Homo sapiens: one gene and its partners. The protein of the gene in region 1 purifies or fractionates together with the protein of each later gene. This does not show direct contact. Each region holds a gene or a part of one and is shown on either strand. Other genes may lie near its edges.

Region 1 (3,500 bases):
CCTAAGCAGGTGGCCTCCCTCCTCTGCTCAGAACCTCCCGTGGCCCAGAGGAGAAGAGGGTACTGGCCCGGCCCTAGGGCCCACCTGACACAGCGCCCCCGCCCCCCACTTCCATGGCCCCAGCCTCACGCGAATCTCCACCAGCTCCTCCACGTAGCTGAACAGCAGAGGGTTGATCTCCCGGAGCCTGAGTACGGGCCGAGACACCATCAGCGCCAGGTAGCGCATGCTGCAGCGAGAAACCTGCCAGGCACGGCCGGGTGACACCTCTCACACCCACCCAGGGCCCGTGCAGCGGGCAACACCCAACCAGGGGTACACCGGCTCCACACCCCAACCCCCTTCCTGCTCTCCCTCCCCAGGGGGATGCCCCCACCTTCCAACCCCCACCTTTCGAGGCTCAAAGTCCCAGTTGTGTACAACGCGTGCAGGGATCACAGCCAGGTCGTTCCAGTGGCAGTGGCTGCAGTAGTACTGGCCGGTGTAGTCGCACTGCCTGGCCTCACTGGGCACACCCCCTGCAGGGTCAGAGGGGCCCTGAGTGTCCCTGCCTCACAAAAACCCCACACAGCTTTCCAGCCTCATGGTCTGTCCTCCCATGGACCACAGCCCTCGGGGAGACATGGGAACATGTCCTATCCTCAGCCGGAAGACCTCAGGTGGTCCCAGCGTCTCACTGACCTGTTCTCTTATCAGTAAAATGGGATATAAACAGGGCCTCACTGTAGGACCGAGGCAGGGACTTCATGAATTAACACCAGCAACTCTCTAGAAAGAAGAGCTGACGCGCACATGTGCACAACTGGGCGACAACCGTGTACTCTCCCTAGACCCCGTCTATGAGGCTTTCTGTGCTGTGTGACTTCTCCCTAGTCCTCATCTATGAGGCTTTCACACGGGGAGGCGGAGGCCAGGTCCCAGCCCTCCAGGTGCTCCTCAGTGACCTGGGTGAGTCACGGAACGGCTGGAACCTCAGTCTGCTTCAGTGAGAAATGAAACAATGGCAGCAACAGACCCTTGTCACTTCCTAAAGATATCAAGCAGGCACTGCCCCAGGGCCTCACTCAACTGTCTGACTTACGTGCCCTTACACACCTGTGCACCCGGCTCCCCGCCAGGAACAGCTCCCTCACCCTCTTCTCTCCCTGCCACCACTCACGCAGAGAGATGGGCGCCCGGCACTCGGCACAGCGGTAATCCTGGCTGTCCAGCCCTGTCTCAGGGCAGATGTTCAGTTCGTATTCAGCTTGGTGGCTGACTTTGGAGCTCACACAGGGCTTGGAGATGAGGTTCAAGCACTTACTGTGACAGCGGTAATAACACCCTAGGGTGGAGGGACACACACTTCTCAAAAGCGGGAAGGGTGCGCCTGCAGCCCAGGCCACCCTCAGCTGGCTTGCCCCCTCCCCGTGGGTTCCACTCTGAGGCCCAGATCAATCTAAGACCTCCTGGCACCAAGGGAGGCCTTAGAACCTCAAAGATCCTTTTCTCCCTGGCCCCTGAGCCTTGCCCCAAAGGTGGCCCAGACCTTGTCCTCCAACTTGACTCACATGTTTGGGGCCAACCTGCCACTCCCACCACCAGACCCAACCTGTCCAAATGTAACAAACGAAACTCCCACCCCCGACCCCAAGCCCCTCAGCTTCCCCATCTCGGTTTCAGCAGCTCCACCCTTTCAATATCATGAGTTATCCTGAAGGGTTTCTCTCTCTCTGTTTTTGTTGTTGTTGTTTTTGTACTTTTTAAGAGACAGGGTCTTGCTCTTTTGCCCAGGCTGGAGTGTAGTCGTGCAATCAGAGCTCACTGCAGCCTCAGACTCCAGGGCCCAAGCGATCCTCCCATCTTTGCACTGGAAAACCCTAGGATTACAGGCGTGAGCCACCGCACTCAGTCAGACTATTTTCTAATCTGTTACATTCCGTTTCCAAACCTTCAGCTGGACTGCCCTTAGCGACTCCTCACTCCCACCACCTACCCCAGCCCAATCAGAGTCATCCCCCTCTTCTCAGTCACCTCCCTCTCAGTCCAAGCTCAGTCAGCAGCCACAGTAACCTATTAAAGCTCAAGTATGTCCAGCACCCACTTGTGGCCCCCACTGCACTTAAAGAAAAGCCCCAGCCACCTCTGAGCCCACCTCCCCCAGAAACAGAACTGCAGCCCCACCTGGCTCTCTGCTCCTCCTTATATCAACCACAGGGCTGCCCCCACCGGAACATTCCTCCAGACACAGAGCTGCAGCCACACCTGGCTCTCTGCTCCTCCTTATATCAACCACAGCACTGTCCCCACCGGAACAGTCCTCCAGACACAAAGCTGCAGCCACACCTGGCTCTCTGCTCCTCCTTAAGGCACTGGACACATCAACCACAGGGCTGCCCCCACCAGAACATTCCTCCAGACATATTGTCTTGGCTTGCTCCCTGACCTTCAAGTTTTTGCTTAAAAGTCACGTGACGCCGGCTGGGCGTGGTGGCTCACGCCTGTAATCCCAGCACTTTGGGAGGCCGAGGTGGACGGAACACAAGATCAGGAGATAGAGACCATCCTGGCTAACACGGTGAAACCCCGTCTCTACTAAAAAAAATACAAAAAATTAGCCGGGCGTGGTGGCGGGCACCTGTAGTCCCAGCTACTCAGGAGGCTGAGGCAGGAGAACGGTGTGAACCCGGGAGGTGGAGCTTGCAGTGAGCTGAGATTGCACCACTGCACTCCAGCCTGGGCGATTGAGTGAGACTCCGTCTCAAAAACAAAACCAAACCAAAAACAAACAAAAACAAAAAACAAAGTCACGTGATGCCTTTACATTCTGCCCTAAAGTCACATTCACTCCACCCTAACACGTGCTAGGTCCTTTCCCTTTTTCTTCATTGTACAAACTAGACACACCATGTAATTCACTAGTTTAATTTCTCATCCAGAACAGCCCTGTCCAATGTAGACAGTACAACGAGGAAATGCATATTTAGTTAATTTAACTTTGACTGGCCATGTTTGGCTAGTGGCCACCACACTGGATAGCTCACATCTGAATGTGAGCCCAGCGGAGGCAGGAACTTTGGTCTCTCTCATTCCTCACTCCTCGTCTGGGTCTCGGCCCACCTGTGCAGGTGTACCAGGTCTGAATGAGCCCCCAGATGATGGTGTTACACTTGTCACAGGTCTGCTTGACGCTCTTGCTCTTCTCCTTGTAAAAGCGGTGCTCAAGGAGCACTCGGATGTTTGGCTCATCCTCATTGGGGTCCTGCAGAGGGTGAGTCAGGGAGGGGGTCACAGGTGAGCTGGGCTGAAGTTCCTTTCCCTTCGCACAAGCCCCTCAACTTATTTCTTCCAGGCACCATTTAGGGCAGAGATTGTGAGTTTCAGCACAATGCCATGTCCCTTTTCTCCCTTTCACAGTAAACAATGATCAGCTGGACAAGGACCGCCAAGGTCACATGCTACCTTTCCCAGCATCCCTTGCGACCTTTCCCAGCATCCCTTGCAGCGAGGGGCTGTGTGGG
Region 2 (4,005 bases), on another chromosome or scaffold:
TCTGGCCAGAAATGAGTGGATAGATGGCAGCAAGGAATTTACACAATCATTATTTAGTGAACAGTGGAGGAGTAAGCAAGGTAGACAGAAGAAACGTCACTTAAACCTAACTTGGGTTAGTACAATAGGATTATTCGAAATGGACATGCAGCATTAGTAAGTTACTGAAGATGAAGTGCAATAACAATGTCTGGGTAGACAGGTTATTATTTTATAAACTTGAAAAACGACGACTTGAGGCAGGATATAACACAAAGACTCCCTAAATTCACACTGAGTGAACTGGGAAGGGAACATGATTCTCTTCATGGGAAGGTAGCTCATAAAGATGCCTGAGTGGAAAGACAGTTTTCAATTGAATTTGCAAGGTGGTAGTGGAGATCCCCAAAGCTGGGGAATGTAGAGACAGAGAACATAATGAGGGTGTTGAATCTGTGGCTCAGAGAATAAGTTTGGGGGTACTAAAGTGGGAGGAAGGAGGGTGGGGGGGGTCACAATTTTTACTCCCGGTAGTCTTGTTCTGGGAAGGTACAAGGTGAAATTAGAAGTGACCTCAGAACCCATCGACGTCTGCCCTTTAAGAGTTTCCCGGCCGGGCGCGGTGGCTCATGCCTGTAATCCCAGCACTTTGGAAGGCCGAGGCGGGCGGATCACAAGGTCAGGAGATCGAGAACATCTTGGCCAACATGGTGAAACACCATCTCTACTAAAAATAGAAAAATTAGCCGGGCGTGGTGGTGCGCGCCTGTAGTCCCAGCTACTCTGGAGGCTGACGCAGGAGAATCGCGTGAACCCGGCAGGCGGAAGTTGCAGTGAGCCGAGATCGCGCCACTGCACTCCAGCCTGGGGAACAAGAGCCGAAACTCTGCCAAAAAAAAGAAAAAAGAGTTTCCCGCACTAGCCATGCCAGGGTGGAGAAGTTCCAGCAAGCACTTCTGTTAAAGATACTTGTTTCGTGAAAACTATACAATGTGGCGTTTTCATTCCTATCTGTGATTCATTTCTTAAGTTCGTGGAGTTCCTTTGCTCCCCTTCCCCCAGCAGGATGTGGGCAAAGCTGTCCCCCTGCCTTCTTCCTTCGCCTGGGCTTCTGGAGCCTCCGGAGCTAGCTCCCGGCGCGGAGCTCCGCCTACGGCCCGTCCCCGGCGCGGAACCCCGCCCACGAGCCCGTTTCCAGCGTGGAACACCGCCCATAGCCCGTCCCCAGCGCGGAGCCCCGCCCCGCAGGCTGCCGGGGGCCCACCGCCGCCCAGGCAAGGCCGCCCTGCCTTGGGCGCAGCGCTGCCATGGCTGGGGGCCGTGGGGCCCCCGGGCGCGGCCGGGACGAGCCTCCGGAGAGCTACCCGCAACGACAGGACCACGAGCTACAGGCCCTGGAGGCCATTTACGGCGCGGACTTCCAAGACCTGCGGCCGGACGCTTGCGGACCGGTAGGAACGTGGCTTGTCAGGCCCGGGCTGGCGTGCCCTGGCCTCCCCGGGCCCTGGGCCAAAGCCCGGACACTTCCAGATTGGGCCGCCGCTTTAGGATCCTGCAGTCTTTTCATCCCTTAGGTTCCACCCATGCTCACTTTAGTCCTTGCACCTGCAGCTGGTCTGCAGAATCCCACCTAGGCCGAATTCTTCTACAGTCCTTTCCCCATGATTTCCCCAGAGGAATCCCCCTGGATTCCTCCCTCTTACCTGGCACTGCTTCTTATTCCTGCCTACATCCCATAACATAACTGCCTCCTTCCAACCTTGTCCTTTTTCCCCTCTGAAAGCCCTTGCGGATGATACCACAGCAATTCATACGCGCCCCTTGCTACTTTGTTCTGAGAACGCTTTTTGGGCTCTCGCACAGGCCTTACGTCCTCAATCAGAATTCTCAAGTCTCATCCATGCATTCAAATCTGCACGCCACATAATTCCCTCTGTACTCCCCAGGCATCCTCACTGTGTTTTCCGGTATGGAGGAACTTTCCATACCTCTGCACCTTCCTCTAAGACATTTAGCTCAGAATAAAGCACACATTCATCTTAGCTGTAGTAGAGAGAGGGTTCTAGACTGAGTCTAGAGAAGGAGTGTCCAATCTTTTGGCTTCCCTGGGCCACACACAAAATACACTAACACTAAGGATAGCTGATGACCTAAAAGAAAAAAAAAATTCGCAAAAAAACCTCAATGTTTTAAGAAAGTTTACGAATGCGTGTTGGGCCACATTCAAAGCGGCCCATGGGCCTCGGGTTAGACCAGCTTGCTCTAGCTCTAGACCTTTTAAAATGGCATTTTGTTTAAAATAATATTTTGCCTTTTTGTCTGGAAATTAAGGCACGTTATAAAGTATTTATACTGACAGTTTTTTCCCCATCCTTGAAGAGTTGATCTACCAAACTATTTCTGAATATTATCATATTATCATTTAAAACATAGTTCTAACTTCATCTGCTTTTTTTTTTTTTCTTTTTGAGACAGGGTCTTGCTCTGTCTCCCAAGCTGGAGTGCAGAGGCATGACCACGGCTCACTGCAGCTTATTCTCAAGCAATCCTTCTGCCTCAGCCTGTCAAGTACCTGGGACTACAGGCACATGCCACTACACCTGGTTAATTTTTTTAATTTTTTGTAGAGACAGAGTCTTGCTCTGTTGCCCGGGCTGGTATCAAGTTCCTGAGCTCATGCAATCCTCTCACCTTGGCCTCTGAAAGTGCTGGGATTACAGGTGTGGGCCACCGCGCCTGGCCTCTTCATCTGCTTTTAACTTTGGCATTTCACAACATCTGCTCTATCTACACATCCAGGATTTCCTCAAGAAATACCATCTTCTGGAGCTATCAGGACAAAATATTCTCTCTCAAACTCAGGGTGCTTCTTCCTTCATTAAATATTTGTTTTAGGCATTAGGAATACAGCTGTGGGCAAAACAGACAAAAATCCTTGCCCTCAGGGAGCTTACTTTTCTAATGCTTAATAATATGAAGTTATTTTTAACCTGAAATGGTAAAAATATAAATTATTCCCCTTAACATGACAGAGAAGTTGGTGACTGGGGAACTTCTATCTTCCCAAACCTTGAGAATCAGGAAGTAGGCCCAAGAAGCAGCCAAAATAGGTGTCTCAAAGTGTACATGGGACTCAACACAAAGCTCCTAAGGCTTCATTCTGAACTAGTTTGTTTACTTTATACAAGCTTAGTTGTCTGCTCCTAGGGCTGCAGAAAAATGGAAGAGAAAAAGCAACTTCTTTTAGGTAGGGATATTGATAACCTCAAGAATTTATAGCTGGTGGCTTTCATAACAAGATGGAATACTAGACAAACCAAAGCAAAAACTATAGAAGGCAGGCAGAAGAATTTAAATAGCTGTCTGTGGCCTATTGTACACCGGGCAAATGGCCTCAACACATTCATAGGACTGGCAGGCAAATAATTGATGGTCTCAAGGATGAATCAGAGTTTAGTCATTCAACAAGCACTTATTATCACCTGCTATTTGCCAGGGAAAAGTGATGCAGGTCCAAAATCCTTTATCCAAAACTCTTTATTGAGAGGGAGTTTCTCTCTGTCGCCCGGGCTGGAGTGCGGTGGAGCAATCTCGGCTCACTGCAACCTCCACCTCCCAGGTTCAAGCGATTCTTGTGCCTCAGCCTCCTGAGCAGCTGGGATTACAGGTACCCGCCTCCACACCTGGCTAATTTTTGTATTTTTAGTAGAGATGGAGTTTCATTATGTTGGCCAGGCTGGTCTCGAATTCCTGACCTCAAGTCCTCCCGCCTCGCCTCCCAAAGTCCTGGGATTACAGGTGTGAGCCACCGTGCCCAGCCTTTTATCCAAAACTCTTGAGACTTGATGGGTTTCAGAATTCAGAAGTGCTTCTGTTCACGTTTATGTGTGCACATTCCACACATTACCTAATACCTTCCTCAGTGTCTGGGGCAGCATCGAAAATCAAACACAATGAAACATAGAAATACTCAAATTTCACACTGAACAAATAAACACTATAACTAACCTCATGTCAGTTCAGGCT
Region 3 (3,500 bases), on another chromosome or scaffold:
ACATTTTAATAGCTTTTTTGAGATATCATTCATATACTGTACAATTCACCTTTAATTTAAAGTGCACAATTCAGTCATTTTCTGTATATTCATAGATATGTGCCATCATGATCACGGTCAATTTTAGAACATTTTATCACTTCTAAAAGAAACCCCATACACTTTAGCTGATATCCCCCGTCTTCCATTCCCCATATGCAACTATTAATCTACCTTCTGTCTATAGATTTACCTATTTTGGGCATTTCATATAAATGGAATGATATGTGTTTTTGTGACTGGGCTTCTTTCACTTAGCTTAATGGTTTCAGGATTCACCTGTGATGTGGCATGTATCAGTACTTCATTACTTTATATGGCTGAATAATATTTTATTATATGGATATGTGATATTTTGTATATCCATTCATCAGTTGATGGACATGTTTTTTTTCCTCCTTTTTGGCTATTATGTATAATGCTACCGTAGACATTCTTATATAAGTGTATGTGTGGACATATGGATTCATTTCTCTTGGATGTATATCTAGGAGTAGAATTTTTGGGACATATGGAATTCTGTTAACCTTTTAAGTTTCTGCCAGATTGTTTTCCAAAGTGGCCTTCCTATTAGCAGTGTATGAGAGTTCCAGTTTCTCCACATCCTTATCAGCACTTGTTATTACCTGACTTTTTTGTAGTTTTGATTTGCATTTCCCTTATGGTTCATGCATCTATTCATGTGCTTCTTGGCCATTTGTGTGTCTTCTTTGGAGAAATATCTATTCAGGTCAAACTTTTGCCCATTCTTTAATTGGGTTATTTGTCTATTTACTATTGGATTGTAAGAATTCTTTATATATATGCATATTACATATATAATCCCTTATCAATCAAGGGATTGACAAGATACAGTCCCTTGACAAATGTGAGGTCATGAGGACCTACTATGTTTTCTTTGAGATTTTATAGTATTGCTATTACATGTAGGTCTTTGATCCATTTTGAGTTAATTTTTGTATACGATATGAAGAAAGGGTTCAAACTTTATTCTTTCGTATGTGACTATCCAGCACTGTTTTTTTTTTTAAATTTTATTGATTTGTGTAAATTTATAGAGTTCAAGTATAATTTTGTTACATTGATATATTGCATAGCGGTAAAGTCAGGGCTTTTAGTGTATCCATCACTGGAGTAGCCTACGTTGTACTCATTAAGTAATTTCTCTTCATCCACCCCACTCTCACACTCCCCACCCTTCCAAGATTCCACTCTCTGTCATTCCATACTCTGCTTCCACATGTACTTGTTGTTTAGCTCCCACTTGGAAGAATAGGCAGTTTGTCTTTCTGCAGCACCATTTGTTAAAGAGGCTGTTCTTTTCCCCATTGATTGGTCTTAGTACCCTTGTAGAAAATCAGTTAGCCATAGATATATGGGTTTATTTCTGGATTCCCAATTCTATTTCATTGATCTATATGCCCACCTTATTCCAGGAAACACTTTTTTTTTTTTTTTTCTGAGATAGGTGTCTCTTTGTTGCCCAGGCTGGAGTGCATGCAGTGGTGCAATCTCGGCTCACTGCAACCTCCACCTCCTGGGCTCAAGTGGACCTCCTATCTCAGCCTACCAAGTAGCTGGAACTACAGGCACATGCCACCATGCCTGGCTAATTTTTGTAGGTTTTGTAGGGATGGAATCTCACCATGTTGCCCAGGCTGGTCTCAAACTCTTGGGCTAAAGCCATCTGCCCACCTCGGCCTCTCAATGTGCTGGGATTACAGGCGTGAGCCACCATGCCTGACTAGGAGACACTCTTTTGATTAATATTGCTTTATAGTAAGTTTTGAAATGGGGGAGTTCTCCAACTTTGCTTTCCTTTTTCAAGATATTTTAGCCATTCTGGAGCCCCTTGCAATTCCATATGAATTTTAGATTAGCTTGTCAGTTTCTGCAAAGAAGCCAGCTAGTATTTTGATAGAGATTGTGATGAATCTGTAGATCAATTTGGGAGTATGGTCATCTTGATATTAAATCATCTGGTCCTTTTTTTTGTTGTTGTTGAGATGGTGTCTTGCCCAGGCTGGAGTGCAGTGGTGCAATCTCAGCTCACTGAAACCTCTGCCTCCTGGGTTCAAGCAGTTCTCCTGCCTCAGCCTCCAGTAACTGGGATTACAGATGCACACCACCATCCCTGGTTTATTTTTGTATTTTTAGTGGAGACGGGGTTTCACCATGTTGACCAGGCTGGTCTCGAACTCCTGACTTCAAGTGATCCACCTGCCTTGGCCTCTCAAAGTGCTGGGATTGCAGGCGTGAGCCACCGTGCCTGGCCTAATCATCTGGTTCATGAACATGGGATATCCTTTCATTTATAGTTGTGTCAATTAATGATGAGGATACATTCTGAGAAATGTTTCATTACAGTATTTCATTGTTGTGCAAACATCATATAGTGTACGTACACAAACCTAGATGGCATAGCCTACTACACACCTAGGCTATATAGTCTAACTGTTTGCTCCTAGGCTACAAACCTGTACAGCATGTTACAGTACTGAATACTGTAGGCAGTTGTAACACTGTGGTAAGTATTTGTGTTGGATACGTTTGTGTATCTAACACAAATACTTAGAAAAGGTATAGTAAAAATATGGTATTTTACATATATATGTGTATATATATATGTGTATATATATGTGTATATATATGTGTATATATATGTGTGTGTATATATATATATGTGTATATATATATATATATATTTTTTTTTTTTTTTTTTTTTGAGACAGAGTCTCGCTCTGTCACCGAGGCTGGAGTGCAGTGACACAATCTCCGCCCACTGCAACCACCGCTTCCCAGGCTCAAGTGATTCTCATGTCAGCCTCCTGAGTAGCTGGGATTACAGGTGTGTGCCACCATGCCTGGCTAATTTTTGTATTTTTAGTAGAGATGGGGTTTTGTCATGTTGCCTAGGCTGGTCCCGAACTCCTGACTCAAGTGATCTGCCCACCTTGGCCTCCCAAAGTGCTGGGATTAGAGGTGTGAGCCACCATGCTGGGCCGGTATTATAATCTTATAGGACCACCATTATGTATGTGGTCTGTAGTTGATGGAAATGTTCTGATGTGGCATACAACTGTAATTAGATCTTCTTTAAATTTCAATAATGTTTTATAGTTTTCAGAATTGCACTTTTTTTCTTAAATTCTTCAAAATACTGTTTTTAATGGTATTGTCAGTGGAATTATTTTTCTTAATTGAATGTTTGGGTTATTCGTTGTAGATGTTTAAAAACACTTGATTTTTATATATATTAATATTGTTTCTGAATCTCTTCTGAACTTGTTTATTCATCCTAGTAGATTATTTGTGGGTTCTCTATGATTTTCTTGTAAAGATCATGTCAAGGGCAAATATATATAGCTTTATTTTTTCTTTCCAATCTGGATGCCTTTTATGTATTTATTTATGGCTAATTGCCCTGGCTAGAACCTTTAGTAAAATATTCAATAGGAGGG
Region 4 (4,282 bases), on another chromosome or scaffold:
AAAGATGGCAACTGAAATCTTGAACCTAACAGTTAATTAAGGTTACTTCGTGAGGATTAAATATTAGAATTCTGCTCCGCCCCCCACCAAAGGATACCGGTATTTTTACTAAAATATATTTTTAGGTTTGTTTTGGCATATTCTTTTCAAAGAGATTTGAAACTCTTAAATTGTTATAATTACAAAATCTTATATTTGAACTTTCAAAACATTACTCATTTTGAAGTAGAATCTAAAACTACATTTAAAAACATTTCTGCCCACATTTGGTCTGTTTAAGGGACTAACCTTTGAACACACTAGTCTTATTTTGAAAGGGCAAGGTGTTTTTTTTTTTTAATAGCCAGTGCCCCACAGAAGAAAAACTGTGACACCCCCCCCCCACAAAGTGCTCATATATATCACCTGTGTTTGTTAGCAATGTTACCTCCAACTTTGTTATCTTGGAGTAATTGACGAGTAAATCATTACAAATGGGTCCAACTCTAAAGGCAAAATCGTCAAAAAGAAGAAAACAGCAAATCCAACTTGCCTTATGTTTATTAGAGGAAATCCTGAAACTTCTGTAGATTGCAGTGTTAGGAAAAACAAGTTTGTGATTACAGCGATGTTATGACCACTTCCCCACTCTAACTCTGTTGTTTAAGGGAGTCCACTCCTAACTGCTGACTCAGTTTGTCTTTACTGCCAGAACTGAAGCGTGACCCAAATTGTCTGCTGGGTTGAGTAGGAACAAACGGGCAAAATGATGATCACTTGGCAGTTCTAGGTTTACTAAAGGATACTTATTTGGTCTAAACACTGTTTGTGGGACTGCAAAGGTATAAATAATGCCCCTCCCAGGAAGGAAAAGGAAAATCTAAAATCTTAGGCAACCGACTCAAGGTCACTGACGGAAGGCACCATTTGAGACCGAGCTCCTCAACTACAGTCCCATCACGGACGGGAGCCACACAGGAGAGCGTGCAGGAGTTTCGAAGCTGCGTAGTACAATAGCTGGCGTGGGCAGTTCTTTTATACTCTGGCTAGAGTAAAATTAACGCACCTTTGCGTTTCTCCATCGCCTCTGACAGCATCCAGCTAAAGGGTGTAGGGTTAAGGAAAGCGGAACCCAGTTGTCCTTTCTCAGCTGAGTCCTTTCAGAAACTGGGACTGAGGAGGGTGAGCGCCGCGGAGAGGGGCAGGGGTGGGAGAGGAGAGAGGGGCGCGGGGCGGGGAAGAGGCGCGTCTGGAAGGCAGTGGGGAGAGGGACTGAGAGGAGTGGGGTTGAAGTCCAGCTGGGAGCATCCAGCGGCGCTGTCTGCAGACAGGGGCGAAGGCAGCCGCTGAGAGTGAGGCAAGAGCGGGAAGCCGAGGGAAGGGAAGGAAGTAAGGAAAGAGGAAGGAAAGGCAGGAGGGGGTAGAAGCTGAGCGGCTGCAATTTCTGCGGCCGGCTCAGTAGGAGGAGCAGGAGGGGAAAGAGGAGGATCCAGTCAGTCAGTCAGACAGCCAGCGGGAGGTGGAGAAAGCAGGAGGAGGAGGAGGATTAAAGATGGCCACCAACAGCTGCGGGAAACGGCAACAACCCCTCACTTTCCGGGATGGTCCCTGCGGGTCGGCCCGGCCTTGATGGAGAGAAGAAACCCGAGGAGCGCCGAGGCTGAGGCGGCGGCGGCGGGGACCCAGCGAGGACGAGGACGCGGCGGAGCAGGGACGGGGGCAGGAGAAGGGAAAGGCGGCGGCGTCGCTGCCCCTGCTGCCTAGCACCGCTGCCTGGCCCGGCGGACCGGTTCCCATACCTCGCGGCCGCAGAATCGAGCTCGGGCCCCGGCCCCCGGCCCGCGGCGCGGGGCTCCCGGGCCCCGCCGCGGACGTCGCGCCGGTCGCCCCTTCCCCGTAGCCCGTGCGCCCTCGGCGCGGAGCCCCGGCCCGCCGCGGTCCCGTCTCCTGGGCCTGTCCCGCCCGCGCCCTCCGCCGGCCCTCAGGTGAGTACCCCCGCCATCCTCCCCGCCCCCCGCGCTCCCGGAGAGGCGGTGCTGCCTCGGCCCGGCGCGCCTGGCCGCTTTGTTCGTGCGGGGCGGAGGCGCTGCCCACTCGCGGCCCTGCGCCCGCTCCCCCTAGGGACAGGCCGCGGCCCAGCTGCTGTCCTCCCCAGGGTCCGCCTTGGCCGGGAGCCGCCGCCGCCGCCAGGGTGGGCGGCCTGGCCCTAGTCCTCCGCTGCCTCCTGGGGAGGGCGCCGTCGCGGACGGGTCGGGGTCGGGGTCACGGGCGGCGAGCGGAGCGGAGCGGAACCGGGATATTTCGGGGGATAGGGGAGGAGAGGGCTGGACGTTACCTGTGGGAAGCAGTGGGGGCGTAGGCGGCCCTGGCTCGCAGGGGTAGGGGATCAGGCCCTGGCCCCCCCCCGCTGCATCCTGCGGGGTCTCAGCTCCCGGAGCCACCCGGACCTGAGCGCAGCCGAGCGCGGCCTCCATCCCTCGGGCGCTGTCTCCAGGGCTTCGGGCCTCTCCCCCTACGCCCTACGCTGGAAGCCCTTCGATTATGGAAGGAGCCAGAGATGCTCCAGTTCTCTTGTACTGGGGATGTGGTGGCATCGCAAACATTCACAGTTACGGCGGGATTTAAGAAGCAGATGAGACCTTTCCAACCAAAGGCCATCTGGCTAGTGTTTGAGCCTCAGGTGCAGTTTTTCATTGATTTTTACCATTTAATTGTGAGATCTGCAATATCAGGTCTTCCTTTCACAGAAACAATGTGATACAACCAGATTGAAAGGATATTTACTGCATATGTGAACCCTTGCATGGACTTCCAGTACCTTAAAAATGGTTAAGTGTTTTCTGTTGGAAAATGGTGCTCATGCATACGAAAAACTATTTTTGTTCAGTAATGGTTGCCAACTGGTTTACTATGTAGTTTGAACACCAAACAATTAAAAAGGAAAAACAAAACCCTATTCTTCGGGCTTTTTAAATAGTGGCATATTTCCAGGTTGGTATTTGGTAGCAGGTTGAGAACAACTGGTTTCGACTATCAGGCGACGTAACAAACATAACATAAAACAGAACTAAAAATGTGCTAATTTATAGAAAAACATGTTGTATTAGTGCATAAGTCTAGTAAAAAAATCCGACTTTAAAAAAAATAAAACTTTATCATGAGACTCTTAAGTATAGGAATTAGGTTGGTATGTTTTTATGTTTAAAAATATATATTGCATTAGAATTGAGAACTCTTCCTATGATATTTGAGCAATAGTAAAGTATGTTAATACTTTGAACCATTCTATCTCAAGCTGCTAGAAAGAGGTTTCTACTGCTAGTTTCTTTCCATGAGTTAAAATGGATTCATCTGAAATATATGTATGCTTTTGGTGGGTCACAGTGGGTCATGCCTGTCATTCCAGCACTTTGGGAGGCCAAGGCTGGGGGATCACTTGAGGCCAGGAGTTAGAGACCAGCCTGGGCAACAAAGAGAAAACAATTTTTGTAAAGAAAAAAAAAAATGTTTCAAAAAATTTGTATCACCTCCAAAAAGGAGGGATAAGTTAGAAAATACAATGTTCTACTCTTGCATAATCTGTTTTTGAAAAAGTAAATGACAGTATATTTCAATATTAGTTGGATTCTCTGCTTTGAAGAGATTCTTAAATTCCACTGCTCAACTTTGCAATTTTAAAAGTTTACATCAGTTGTTCTTAATTTATTTATTTATTTCTTTTTTTAGAGACAGGGTCTTGCCCTGTTGCCCAGGCTGGGGTGTAGTGGCACGATCACGGTTCACTGCAGCCTTGAACTTCTGGGCCCGAGTGATCCTTCTCCCACAGCCTCCCAAGAAGTTAGGACTACATGTGCATGCCACCATGCCTGTCTAATTTTTCTATTTTTTGTAGAGATGAGGGTCTCCCTGTGTTGCTCAGGCTGATCTTGAACTCCTGGCCTCAAGTGATCCTCCTGCCTTAGCCTCTCTAAGTGCTGGGATTACAGATGTGAGCCACCATGCCCTGCTTCTTTCTTAATTTCATGCATATACTTCTGAGGGTCCTTGGCTTCCCAGAAATCATATGCAGAATATAGCATATATTTGCTTTTTTCCTAGATAAAGACTCTGTTGGGTGATCACATTCTCAAAAGGATATGGGTCTGTAAAAGATTATGAACTTCTAGATATAAAATTAAAGAATACATATTCCATATTTGGAAAGCTAAAATTTTTAAATTACATTTGATGATTTATGTCCTTCATTTCTGATTATGCCCAAGAAATGTTTGTGATTAAGAGTTCAGCACATAGACGTTGTTTC
Region 5 (3,500 bases), on another chromosome or scaffold:
AGGTAATGGGATCAATGATCCTCATCATTGGGTATTTATTGCATGTAAGCTTTGATATAGTACTGAGCATGTTGTTACAGAGAACCTTGGAAGGATAAGACCCAGGGGACTGAGGTGGTGGGGTGTTGGGTGTAGAAATCCCTCTGCTGTTAGCTTCCATTAAGGGCTTTGTGTTGAACTCAGGAGTTAACCTATTTCTGTGGTTCTAGTGCAGCTGAAGAAGCATCTGACTTCTCTTTCTCTTTTCTATCTTGAGGAGTAGCTGAGTTTCTTCTTAAGAAATGGAGACATTCTTACTCAGGGCTTTAAGATACCGTTTTTTTGTGTGTGTGATAATACCTGTCTACAGTCCTGGTCATTGTACTTTTGTGGCATATTAAATACTTACAACAATTCCTAGGTGTTATGTATTCTCTGGGACATGGAAACTGAAGAAGTTGAAGACATACTGCAGGAGTTTGTAAATAAGTCTCTTTTATTCTGTGATCGGAATGGAAAGTCGTTTCGTTATTATTTACATGATCTTCAAGTAGATTTTCTTACAGAGAAGAATTGCAGCCAGCTTCAGGTACTTGCATCTTGGTTTACTTTTTTTTTTCCTTTTTCCTTTGAAATAATTTTAGATTTATTGAAAATTTACAAAATAGTAGATAGTTTCTGTGCATAAGTCCTTCACCTAGCTTCCCCTAATATTAACATTTTATATAACCATAGTACAGTTGTTAAAGCCAGAAAATTAACATTGATACAATACTGTTCACTAACCTACGTGTTCTTTTTGTAGTCCAGGCCAATTTAGGATCCCGTATTGCATATGATTGTCTTGTTTCCCTACTTGTCATTTTTTTCCGTCTCCTCAAATCTGTGAAAATTTATCAGTCTTTATCTTTCATGGCCTTGTCACCTTTGAAGAGTACTGGCTAGTAATTTTGTACAGTATACCCAAATTTGGTTTTGTGTGATGTTTTTCCTGACTAGATTGAAGTTATAGATATTTGGCAAGAATACCAATGATGTTGTATCTTTCTCAGTGGCGTCATAGGCTGAGAGTACTTGGTGGTTTTTAAAAAATTTTTTGTAGAGATAGTGTTTTGCCATGTTGCCCAGGCTGTTCTTGAACTCCTGGGCTCAAGTGATCCACCTGTCTTGGCCTCCCAAAGTGCTGAGATTGTAGGTATGAGCCACTATTCCCAGACTCCTGGTGTTGATATGTTTTATTATGGGTGATGTTAATGTTGATAATTTGTTTAAAGTGGTATCTGCCAGGTTTCTGCACTGTAAAGTCATTATTTTGTGGGGAGATTCTCTGTATATATATATGTATTTTTTTTTTTTTGAGACAGGGTCTTACTGTGTTGCCCAGGCTGGCATGCAGTGGCTCACTGCAATCTTAAACTCCTGGGCTCGGTTGGTCCTGAGTAGCTAATTCCCGAGTAGTTGGGTCTGCAGGCATATGCCACCACACCTGACTGATTTTTTTTATTTTTTATTTTTTGTAAAAAAATTAAATATACGGATATCTCTCTATGTTGCCCAGGCTAGTCTCGAAGTCCTGGCCTCAAGTGATCCTCCTACCTTGGCCTCCCAAAGTGCTGGGATTACAGGCGTGAGCCACCGAGCCCGGCCTCTCTGTACATTCTTAATAGCTTTGGAAGCTGAAGTTACTGTGATGCTTAGGTTATAAAATTGTTTCTGGCTTCTGAAACGTTTCATTGGGTTGCAGGATCTACATAAGAAGATAATCACTCAGTTTCAGAGATATCACCAGCCGCATACTCTTTCACCAGATCAGGAAGACTGTATGTATTGGTACAACTTTCTGGCCTATCACATGGCCAGTGCCAAGATGCACAAGGTAAGATGACCCATTTAAAAATTCTTTTATCTGACTTCCCTTTTTCCATATGTATTACAAATAAGTGCTTTTTTTCTGTTATTTTTTGTCTTGAATTTTGTTCATATTGCTTTCCATTTGATTTTTTTTTTTTTTTTTTTTTTTTGAGACAGGGTCTCACTTTGTTTCTCAGGCTGGAGTGCAGTGGCACAATCTCAGCTCATTACACCCTCACCTCCTGGGCTCAAGTGATCCTCCCACTTCAGCCCCCCATGTAGCTGGGACTATAGGCACATGCCACCATGCCTGGCTAATATTTTTGTATTTTTGGTGGAGATGGGGTTTCACTATGTTGCTCAGGCTGGTCTCAAACTCCTGAGCTTGACGTGAGCTCAAGTGATCCACTCGCTTCAGCCTCCCAAAGTGTTAGGAGTACAGGCATGAGCCACCGCGGCTGGCTGAAGATTTGAATTTTTATGTAGTTAAATTTACCACTGTTGTTGTCGTCGTTGTTTGGTATTTTGCTTTGCTGTCCTGTTCATAAACATGTATTGTTTTATTAGTATAATTTTTTATTAGTAAAAATGGGATTATAGCTTGCATAATTATTTTTGTTTTTACCTGTAGTGATTAGAAAAGGTACCTTAGTAACTAGTAAATGAACCACCTCAGAATTAATCCTCTTCTTACTAGTAGCTTTCCTTTTTGGGCAGTATGGATTTGTTTTGTAAGCTTTGAGAGGAAATGGATAGTGGAAAAGTATATTCATTGATTCAATAAATATTTATTGAGTGCTTGTTATGTATATTGCTCTTCATTAAGAGGATAAAGCACAGGCACAAAGTCATTGCTCTCACGAGTTTATGTTCTGGGAGGAGGCAGACATTAAACAAATTTATTATATTTCAGTGGGTAGTTAAGTGCTCAGAAGAAGGACAGAGCATGGAAGGGGAAAGAAAGTGATGATAGAGGGGTAGAATCATCATGATTTGCTTATGGGTTTGGTATGCATTATACGAGAAAGAGAAGAATCAAAGATGACTCCAAGAATCAAAGATGACTCAAACCCCAGTGGAAAGAACGGAGTCCATGAACTGAAACAGGGGTCTTTGGGAGAACAAGCTTTTTCCTGCAGAGAATGGGGATGGTTAAGAACTCATTTTGGATATATTAAGTCTGATATACCTATTAAGGCATCTGGCTGGAAATATTGAATAGGCAGTTAGATATATGAGTCTAGAATTCTGGGGAGAATTATAGATGAAAGATGAAAATAAGGAATTATTAGCACATAGATGGTATTTGATTGAAGTCATGACTACCAAGTAGCTACTAAAAATGTTTACATTTGGAAAACCATATGTACTTTCAGTAAATTTTCTATGCTCAGGTATGTTATTTCTTGGTTATGATACATAGTAAATTGTTGTAGTTTGTTTTTTTATCTAGCAAAATATATTTACATTTAATAGTGTATATTGGAATGATGGTATTCCAATAAATACTTGTGCCCTAATTTACTTAACCAAACTCTAGTTATCGAACATTTAGGTTTTCAGTTTTTTTGGTCCTTATGATGTAATGAGCATTCTTGTTTATCTTTGTACCTATGTTGTTTCCTTGGCAAATTCCGAGAAGTAGAATTACTGAGCCAATGCATCTTTTT
Region 6 (3,500 bases), on another chromosome or scaffold:
AGATGCTCCTGAACCTCAAATAATTTGAGGAATTTCTTGTTGCTTACATAAGATGAAACATTCCCTTTTAAAAAAACATGTATTTGTAGCTCCCTATGACTTTGTTTTATATTCTAGTTGAGTCATTGTAGGGAAAATGAAAATACCAACTATTGTATTTAACACTTTTAATTTACAGGTTCTCGAAATAAGAATGACAAGTGTATGTTCCTTTTGTATATTGAAGCAAATTCTATTAGTAATAGCAAAGGACAGAAAACAAAGAGTTCTGAGGATGGGTGTAAGCATGGAATGTTGATGGAGTTCTCACTTAAAGACCTTTATGCCATCCAAGAGATTCAAGCTGAAGAAAACCTGTTTAAACTCATTGTCAAGTATGTATGCTGTCATTTGAAATTTTATTACATAGATGCATGTTGGGGGTTCTCTTGGCTACAGGTAACAAAAAACTAGTCAAAATGGTCGGCAAACTACAGTCCATGTACCAAATACAGTACTCCATCCCCTTGAGTATGGCCTATGAACTAAGAATGGTTTTTATATTTTTTAATGGTTGAAATAAATTAAAAGAATATTTCACAACACATGAACTTATATGAAATTCAGATTTCAACTGGATATGGTGGCTCACGCCTGTAATCCCAGCACTTTGGGAGGCCGAGGCAGGCGGATCACTTGAGGTCGGGAGTTCGAGACCAGCCTGGCCAACATGGTGAAACCCTGTCTCTACTAAAAATACAAAAATTGGCCGGGCTTGGTGGCGGGCGCCTGTAATCCTAGCTACTCGGGAGGCTGAAGTGAAGAATCACTTGAACCCGGGAGATGGAGATTGCAGTGAGCCAAGATCGTGCCATTGCACTCCAGCCTGGGCAACAAGAGTGAAACTCTGTCTTTAAAAAAAAAAAAATTCTGATTTCAGTGTCCATAAATAAAGTTCTATTGGAACATAGCCACACTCATTCATTTACATAAGTGTGCTGCTTTTGTGCTACAGTGGCAGAGTTGAATAGTTGTGACAGAGAACATATATATGGCTCACATATTTTTGCTTTATCCTTTTATAGAAAAAATTTGCTGATCTCTAGTTTAAACAATACAGAATATTTACTATCTTATACAAGAAGTTTGTCACTCAACGGAAGAGTGAGGGAACAGTGAATTCCAAAGCCATTTCAATTAGTTCTGTGTAGGGTGTTGCTCATAGAGATTCAAATCGAATTAACATATATTCAAAAAGTATTTGATAATTTTATTTCCATGCTATTGCCATGCCGTGGAGAAGCAGCAAAGTATAGGCATTTTTTGCTTTAGTGGTTAAGAGCTTTTCTTTGGAGACAAACCTAAGTTAGACTCCTGCTTTGGGCATTTACTTCCAGTGTGATCTGGGACATATTACTTAATTTCCCCTTTATTTGTATCACCTTAAAATGGAAATAATAAGACTTACCTCAGAAGGTTGTTCTAAAGATTAAGTGGGATTTTATAATGTACTTAACATAACTACTGCAACATACTGTTACTTTTGATAATTTTTTGACAACTGTGGGGTAATTTTGAAGAAATAGGAGAAAATGAGAGAGACTGAATAATAGATATATCTAAGAGAGGTAAAGAACTGAGAACGTTTTGAAATGCATTGTATTATAAAAAGTGATCTTGGCCAGGCACAGTGGCTCAAGCCCGTAATCCCAGCACTTTGGGAGGCCGAGGCGGGTGGATCACCTGAGGTCAGGAGTTCGAGACCAACCGGACCAATATGGTGAAACCCTGTCTCTACTAAAAATAGAAAAATTAGCTGGGCATGATGGCAGGTGCCTGTAATCCTAGCTTCCTGGGTGGCTGAGACAGGAGAATCTCTTGAACCTGGGAGGCGGAGGTTGCAGTGATCTGAAATCGCGCCACTGCACTCCAGCCTGAGCAACAGAGCAAGACTCTGTCTCACAAAAAAAAAAAAAAAAAGTGATTTTGTCATGCTTTTCTGTTCAGTAGGCTCAGGTCTGTAAGAGGATTTGATGCTTTTTCTTTCTGGCTTTAATATGTTAATTAGCTGACTGAGTAAAGAATAGTGCTCCACAGGGGTTTTTTGTCCTTAAATCCTACTTCCCTCTGAATAAAAGCCATTCAGACCCACCCTGGAAGAGAGGCTGCTCTAACTTAGCGTTGCTGGGGTGGTCTTGGAGTGAGTCCTTTGAGCAGGTGGCCAAGGAAGCAACCTGGTCGACAATCCAAACATCTTTGGTTCCTCTTAACAGTTGTAAATTAAAACTGAACATTTTTAGTGGTCCCTCTTCTCCCATACTTATAGAAGAGTAAGTATGGAAAACTTTAGTTTTCTTCCCACAGTTTGCTTTTTCCCCCTCCATGTTTGTGATTTCAGCATCAAAACTAGAATTTTTCATGGTCCTCTATTATCAGTCTAGCAGAGATTGGCAAACTAGGCAGGCTGCCTGTTTTTGTAAGTCAAATTTTATTAAAACACAGCCCCACCCAGTTTACTTACATTACTGTTCACAGTTGCTTGCACACTACAAGTTGAATAGTTGTGACTGAGACAGTATAGCCTGTGAAGCTGAAAATACTTTCTGGCCCTTTAAGAAAAAGTTTGTCAACCCAGCCTAGGTGACAGTAGAAGTTTATGTTTTAGTTTAGGTTCCTTCAGAAGCAATGATTTGGATCAACATAGTTTACTTGGGAGGTGATTCTGGAGTTACTGGTAGGGAAATGATGGCAGCCAGTGTAGGTGCCTTAACGAACAGGTGACCCACTAGCATCTGGGACATAATCCTCCTGGGCCAGTGGAAAACTCCACTGTGGAAAGCCAGCTTCAGTATTTTTCCATTTAAGGGCCTACATTTGGGACTGCCCCCAGGAGTATTAAACACCTCAGCACTTCTGGCCTGCCCATCCTGCCTGCCAATGATGCTTGTGTGGCCATAGAAAGGTCTTTGGCAGACAGGTGCAGATGCCAGTAGGAAGCCGGAACATACTGAACAGTGAGTGCCAAGGGGATATGAGCACACCACCACCTCCTTCTGTGTTTACATATATTAAAAGGGAATAAAGACTCATGTTTTACTCCTGATTTTCTCTCCCACCCTATTTTTGTTTGTTCCTTGTTTATAAAATTGACAAATGTAAATGTACTGTTTTATATTCTTTCTCTTAATTTTTTTTAGAGACAGGGTCTTGCTGTGTTGCCCAGGCTGGATTGCCGTGGCACAATCAGAGCTCACTGTAGCTTCAAACTCCTGGCCTTAAGTTATTCTCCCACCTCAGCCTCACAAGTAGCTAGGACTAAAGGTGTATGCCACCATGGCTGGCTAATTTTTAATTTTTTTTTTTATAGATATCGGGGTCTCACTTTGTTGCACAGGCTAGTTTTGAACTTTTGGGCTGAAGCAGTTCTTCCACCTTGGCCTCCCAGAGTGCTTGCTGGGATTACAGGCATGAACCTGTAAACCAAAAATAAAATTCCAAGGCCCCCCACCCATTTAAACAGA
Region 7 (3,500 bases), on another chromosome or scaffold:
GGTGTAAAGTGAGAATAATGATTCTGCCCTGGACACCCCACAGGACTGAGGGGAGGGTCAGTGAGATGATGCAGGATCAGTTCCAGTTTACAAAGTGCTCTCATATAGGTGAGCCGTCCTCCTTTTCTGTTCTTTGTGGGTTTTTATTTTTCATGAGCTTCTGTTTCTAAGGTATATTTTGAAATGTAATATGAATTTGTAATTTGATGTATATAACATAGGTAAAATTAGGCAAGTATCTATTTAGGTATCTAATTGTGCAGATTCTTTTGTCACTGCCCTGCATTATAGCCATATCAGTTATTTTTTCATTGAAAGAATGCAGTTGTTATTTTTGTTGTTTTTCCAAATTCTTGTAGGATCTAATTTCCATTTTGCCGTTTAAAAAATTATTGTTCATACGATCTTTTAAAAGGATTTTTTTTTAAGTTTGCCTTCTGTTGAACTAGGAGTTAAGTACTTATTTTTCAACTTTTGTCTTTATAGGATCTTTAATGACTTGCTACTGTGGGAACCAACAGCTCCTTCACCAGTGGAGACATTCGAGAATATTTCCTATGGCATTGGGCTTTCAGTAGCCAGTCAGCTCATTAATACTTTCAACAAAGATAGTTTTAGTGCATTTAAATCTGCAGTTCACTATGGTAATATATTTTTAATTTGTTTTGATTTAAAATGCCTAGTTTATCAATTAACAAAGTACTAACCTTTGAATTGTGGATTTAAAAATCTTTATGTTTCATTGTAACTATATTTTGCAATTTCTTTTAGTAATTTATAAGAATATTTCCTTATTTCTATCTGTATATTGAGAATATCATTATCACTTAAATATGTTCTCTTTAGAATGATAGTGTGCACATTGTTTGAAGTTCAAAGCTAAAGAGAAAAACAGTATGTATTTCTGTGTTCACACCATATTCTTTGTAAAACTAAGCAGGTTATATAAAATATTTTCATGATCATTTTTATGTTGCTGTTTTAATATGCTATCAGAATGTAATTGTATGTTTATTTCTCATAGATGAGGAAAGTGGATCTGAGGAGGAGACTTTGCAGTATTTTTCCACTGTTGATCCCAACTATCGTTCTCGCAGGAAAAAAAAATTAGACTCTCAGAACAAGAACTCTCAGAGTTTTCTCTCAGTTCTTCTGAATATTAATCATGGATTAATAGCAGTGTTCACAGATGTGAAGGTGAGGTTTACAAATCCGAAGTGTTTTTTCAAATGTATCTTACTTTAAATAAATCTGCTAGGATACATATCTAGTGATTGAAGTATTTGATATTTTGAAGTTGTTTCAGGGACTGATGAAGACCAGTGTCCTGGGGCAAACCATGATGATAGCAACTTTGGGGATTTAGCTTTCGTTGCAGATCAAACTTTGTGGGGCTCTCCCTTTGGAAAACAGGTGCTAATTCTGCTTCTGGGGTGACAACAAAGTACAGAGATTCATCTGATAGAAGAGGTTCCACATAGCATTTAAGTTATCCAGTTTTATTTTATACCATGATATTGAATAGTTCAAGGATTAGACTGCTTTGCTGCAGTATGGGAGATTTTCCTAAGCTGAATCAACAAAGAGCATCTCAAGGAACATGCTTACTTTTCTGCATTTAAGTAATAACTTCTGTGTTTTTCTGATCTTTTTACTAGCAAGATAATGGAGATCTGTTGGAAAACAAGCATGGTGAATTCTGGTTAGAGTTCAATAGTGGTTCATTATTTTGTGTGACAAAATATGAAGGTTTTGATGACAAGCACTACATTTGCCTTCATTCTAGCAGTTTCAGTCTGTACCATAAAGGTAGGACAAACACGTGTCTTGGTTTCTTCTCTTTAGACATGTTTAAATTTCTTGTTTAACAAAGAAAATCTATTGAGAACAGAACTTTGGTATTAGAAATTATTTTCTGTGGAGGGCTCTCATTCTGCTGTCAAAGTAATATTTACAAATTAGAAGTCAACTTCAGGTTCTTTTTTTGCAATAGCTTTGTTGAGGTATAATTCACACACCATACTCATTTAAAGTGTACCTTTCAGTGGTTTTTAGTATTTCACAAGAGTTATGCAACCGTCACCATAGTCAATTTTAAAACATGTTTATTACCCCATGAAGAAATTTCATACACTTTAGTGATAAACTTTCACCCCTTCCGCTCTCTCCTTCCCGTAAACACACTAACCTACACTCTGTTTCTATGGATTTGCATATTCAGAAGTTTCTTATAAATGGAATCATACAATATTTGGCCTTTTTGACTGGCTTCTTTCATTTGACACGCTTTCAAAGTTCATCCAAGTTGTATCTGTACTTCATTCCTTTTTATTGCCAAATAATATTCCACTGTAAAGATAGATCACATCTTATGTATCCATTCATCAGTCGATGGGACTATATGTTCTTTATTCTTCTTTAAGGAATATTTCCTTTTGGTTCCAGATATAGAACCTACCATTTTTTGAGCAGTTACCTGAGTTTACCTTGTTTCATAGACATGAGATGTTTGTGATAGTTTTCTATTTAATTTTCCTAGCATTTCAGAATCTTTTGTTTCTTTAAGCTGTGTACGGTCAGTCACACTAACATTAGCAAAGAGGAGTGGATTATTAATGCCATGCTGGTTTTTGTCATCATGCCTCCTTAAGTTATATTCAGTGGAAGTACGTGGATTTTTGTTTTGAGTCATGTAAGTTGATTAGCTAATTTCAAGTAATCATTTTGTTACTATTTTTACCTCAATGTGGATCTCTAGGCATAGTGAATGGAGTGATTCTCCCGACAGAAACACGACTTCCCAGCTCAACCCGCCCACACTGGTTGGAACCTACTATTTATTCCTCTGAAGAAGATGGCCTCAGTAAAACTTCTTCAGATGGAGTTGGAGGAGACAGTTTGAATATGCTGTCTGTTGCCGTTAAAATATTGTCTGATAAATCAGAGTCCAATACAAAGGTTTGTGTTTTGTACTTTTATGCCACTGTTGATTTGATTCTAGCTAAAAATAATTACATAAAAGGCAACATATTTATTTTCTTGGAAAAACTTTTGAGTTATAGGATTACATAGGTGGTAAATGTCATTCTTTGTCTTGTTCTGTATAGGAATTTCTCATTGCCGTAGGACTGAAAGGAGCCACTCTCCAGCATAGAATGCTTCCTTCTGGGCTTAGCTGGCATGAGCAGGTAAGAGAGCTGTTATATATGTATTAATTTATTTAAAAATTTGTGTTGACATCTAATACACATACTGAAAAGTTTGTAAGTCATAAATGTTCAGCTCAGTGAATTATCATTAAGTGAATACTACGGTGTCACCACCTTTTAGGTTAAGAAATAGAACAGTATTGGCCGGGCACGGTGGCTCATGCCTGTAATCCCAGCACTTTGGGAAGCCAAGGCAGGTGGATCACCTGAGGTCAGGAGTTCGAGCCCAGCTTGGTCAATCCCGTCTCTACTAAAAATACAAAAATTAGCTGGGCGTGGTGGAATGCACCT

Evidence for each region.
Region 2: the proteins of DEF8 (region 1) and EIF2AK4 purify together in Homo sapiens (affinity purification with mass spectrometry; 2 studies listed by BioGRID and IntAct, with this or other methods). This does not show direct contact.
Region 3: the proteins of DEF8 (region 1) and ALMS1 purify together in Homo sapiens (affinity purification with mass spectrometry; 2 studies listed by BioGRID and IntAct, with this or other methods). This does not show direct contact.
Region 4: the proteins of DEF8 (region 1) and WDFY3 purify together in Homo sapiens (affinity purification with mass spectrometry; 2 studies listed by BioGRID and IntAct, with this or other methods). This does not show direct contact.
Region 5: the proteins of DEF8 (region 1) and APAF1 purify together in Homo sapiens (affinity purification with mass spectrometry; 2 studies listed by BioGRID and IntAct, with this or other methods). This does not show direct contact.
Region 6: the proteins of DEF8 (region 1) and MCM8 purify together in Homo sapiens (affinity purification with mass spectrometry; 2 studies listed by BioGRID and IntAct, with this or other methods). This does not show direct contact.
Region 7: the proteins of DEF8 (region 1) and ATG2B purify together in Homo sapiens (affinity purification with mass spectrometry; 2 studies listed by BioGRID and IntAct, with this or other methods). This does not show direct contact.

The regions. Positions count from the first base shown.
Region 1 is NC_000016.10:89,958,755-89,962,254, reverse strand, and holds part of DEF8 (differentially expressed in FDCP 8 homolog), read right to left. Parts: intron 3,242-3,500; coding exon 3,100-3,241; coding exon of another isoform or gene 3,020-3,099; exon of another isoform or gene 2,889-3,019; intron 1,325-2,888; coding exon 1,160-1,324; intron 519-1,159; coding exon 391-518; intron 244-390; coding exon 130-243; intron 1-129. UniProt on the Homo sapiens protein: Positively regulates lysosome peripheral distribution and ruffled border formation in osteoclasts. Involved in bone resorption.
Region 2 is NC_000015.10:39,932,910-39,936,914, forward strand, and holds the start of EIF2AK4 (eIF-2-alpha kinase GCN2), read left to right. Parts: upstream 1-1,205; 5' UTR 1,206-1,286; coding exon 1,287-1,430; intron 1,431-4,005. UniProt on the Homo sapiens protein: Metabolic-stress sensing protein kinase that phosphorylates the alpha subunit of eukaryotic translation initiation factor 2 (EIF2S1/eIF-2-alpha) in response to low amino acid availability.
Region 3 is NC_000002.12:73,392,336-73,395,835, forward strand, and holds part of ALMS1 (centrosome-associated protein ALMS1), read left to right. Parts: intron 1-3,500. UniProt on the Homo sapiens protein: Involved in PCM1-dependent intracellular transport. Required, directly or indirectly, for the localization of NCAPD2 to the proximal ends of centrioles.
Region 4 is NC_000004.12:84,963,891-84,968,172, reverse strand, and holds the start of WDFY3 (WD repeat and FYVE domain-containing protein 3), read left to right. Parts: upstream 1-1,482; 5' UTR 1,483-1,964; intron 1,965-2,314; exon of another isoform or gene 2,315-2,557; intron 2,558-4,282. UniProt on the Homo sapiens protein: Required for selective macroautophagy (aggrephagy). Acts as an adapter protein by linking specific proteins destined for degradation to the core autophagic machinery members, such as the ATG5-ATG12-ATG16L E3-like ligase, SQSTM1 and LC3.
Region 5 is NC_000012.12:98,665,790-98,669,289, forward strand, and holds part of APAF1 (apoptotic protease-activating factor 1), read left to right. Parts: coding exon 1-2; intron 3-400; coding exon 401-568; intron 569-1,723; coding exon 1,724-1,855; intron 1,856-3,500. UniProt on the Homo sapiens protein: Oligomeric Apaf-1 mediates the cytochrome c-dependent autocatalytic activation of pro-caspase-9 (Apaf-3), leading to the activation of caspase-3 and apoptosis. This activation requires ATP. Isoform 6 is less effective in inducing apoptosis.
Region 6 is NC_000020.11:5,967,652-5,971,151, forward strand, and holds part of MCM8 (DNA helicase MCM8), read left to right. Parts: intron 1-178; coding exon 179-374; intron 375-3,500. UniProt on the Homo sapiens protein: Component of the MCM8-MCM9 complex, a complex involved in the repair of double-stranded DNA breaks (DBSs) and DNA interstrand cross-links (ICLs) by homologous recombination (HR).
Region 7 is NC_000014.9:96,314,842-96,318,341, reverse strand, and holds part of ATG2B (autophagy-related protein 2 homolog B), read left to right. Parts: intron 1-486; coding exon 487-644; intron 645-1,024; coding exon 1,025-1,197; intron 1,198-1,658; coding exon 1,659-1,809; intron 1,810-2,758; coding exon 2,759-2,958; intron 2,959-3,107; coding exon 3,108-3,188; intron 3,189-3,500. UniProt on the Homo sapiens protein: Lipid transfer protein required for both autophagosome formation and regulation of lipid droplet morphology and dispersion.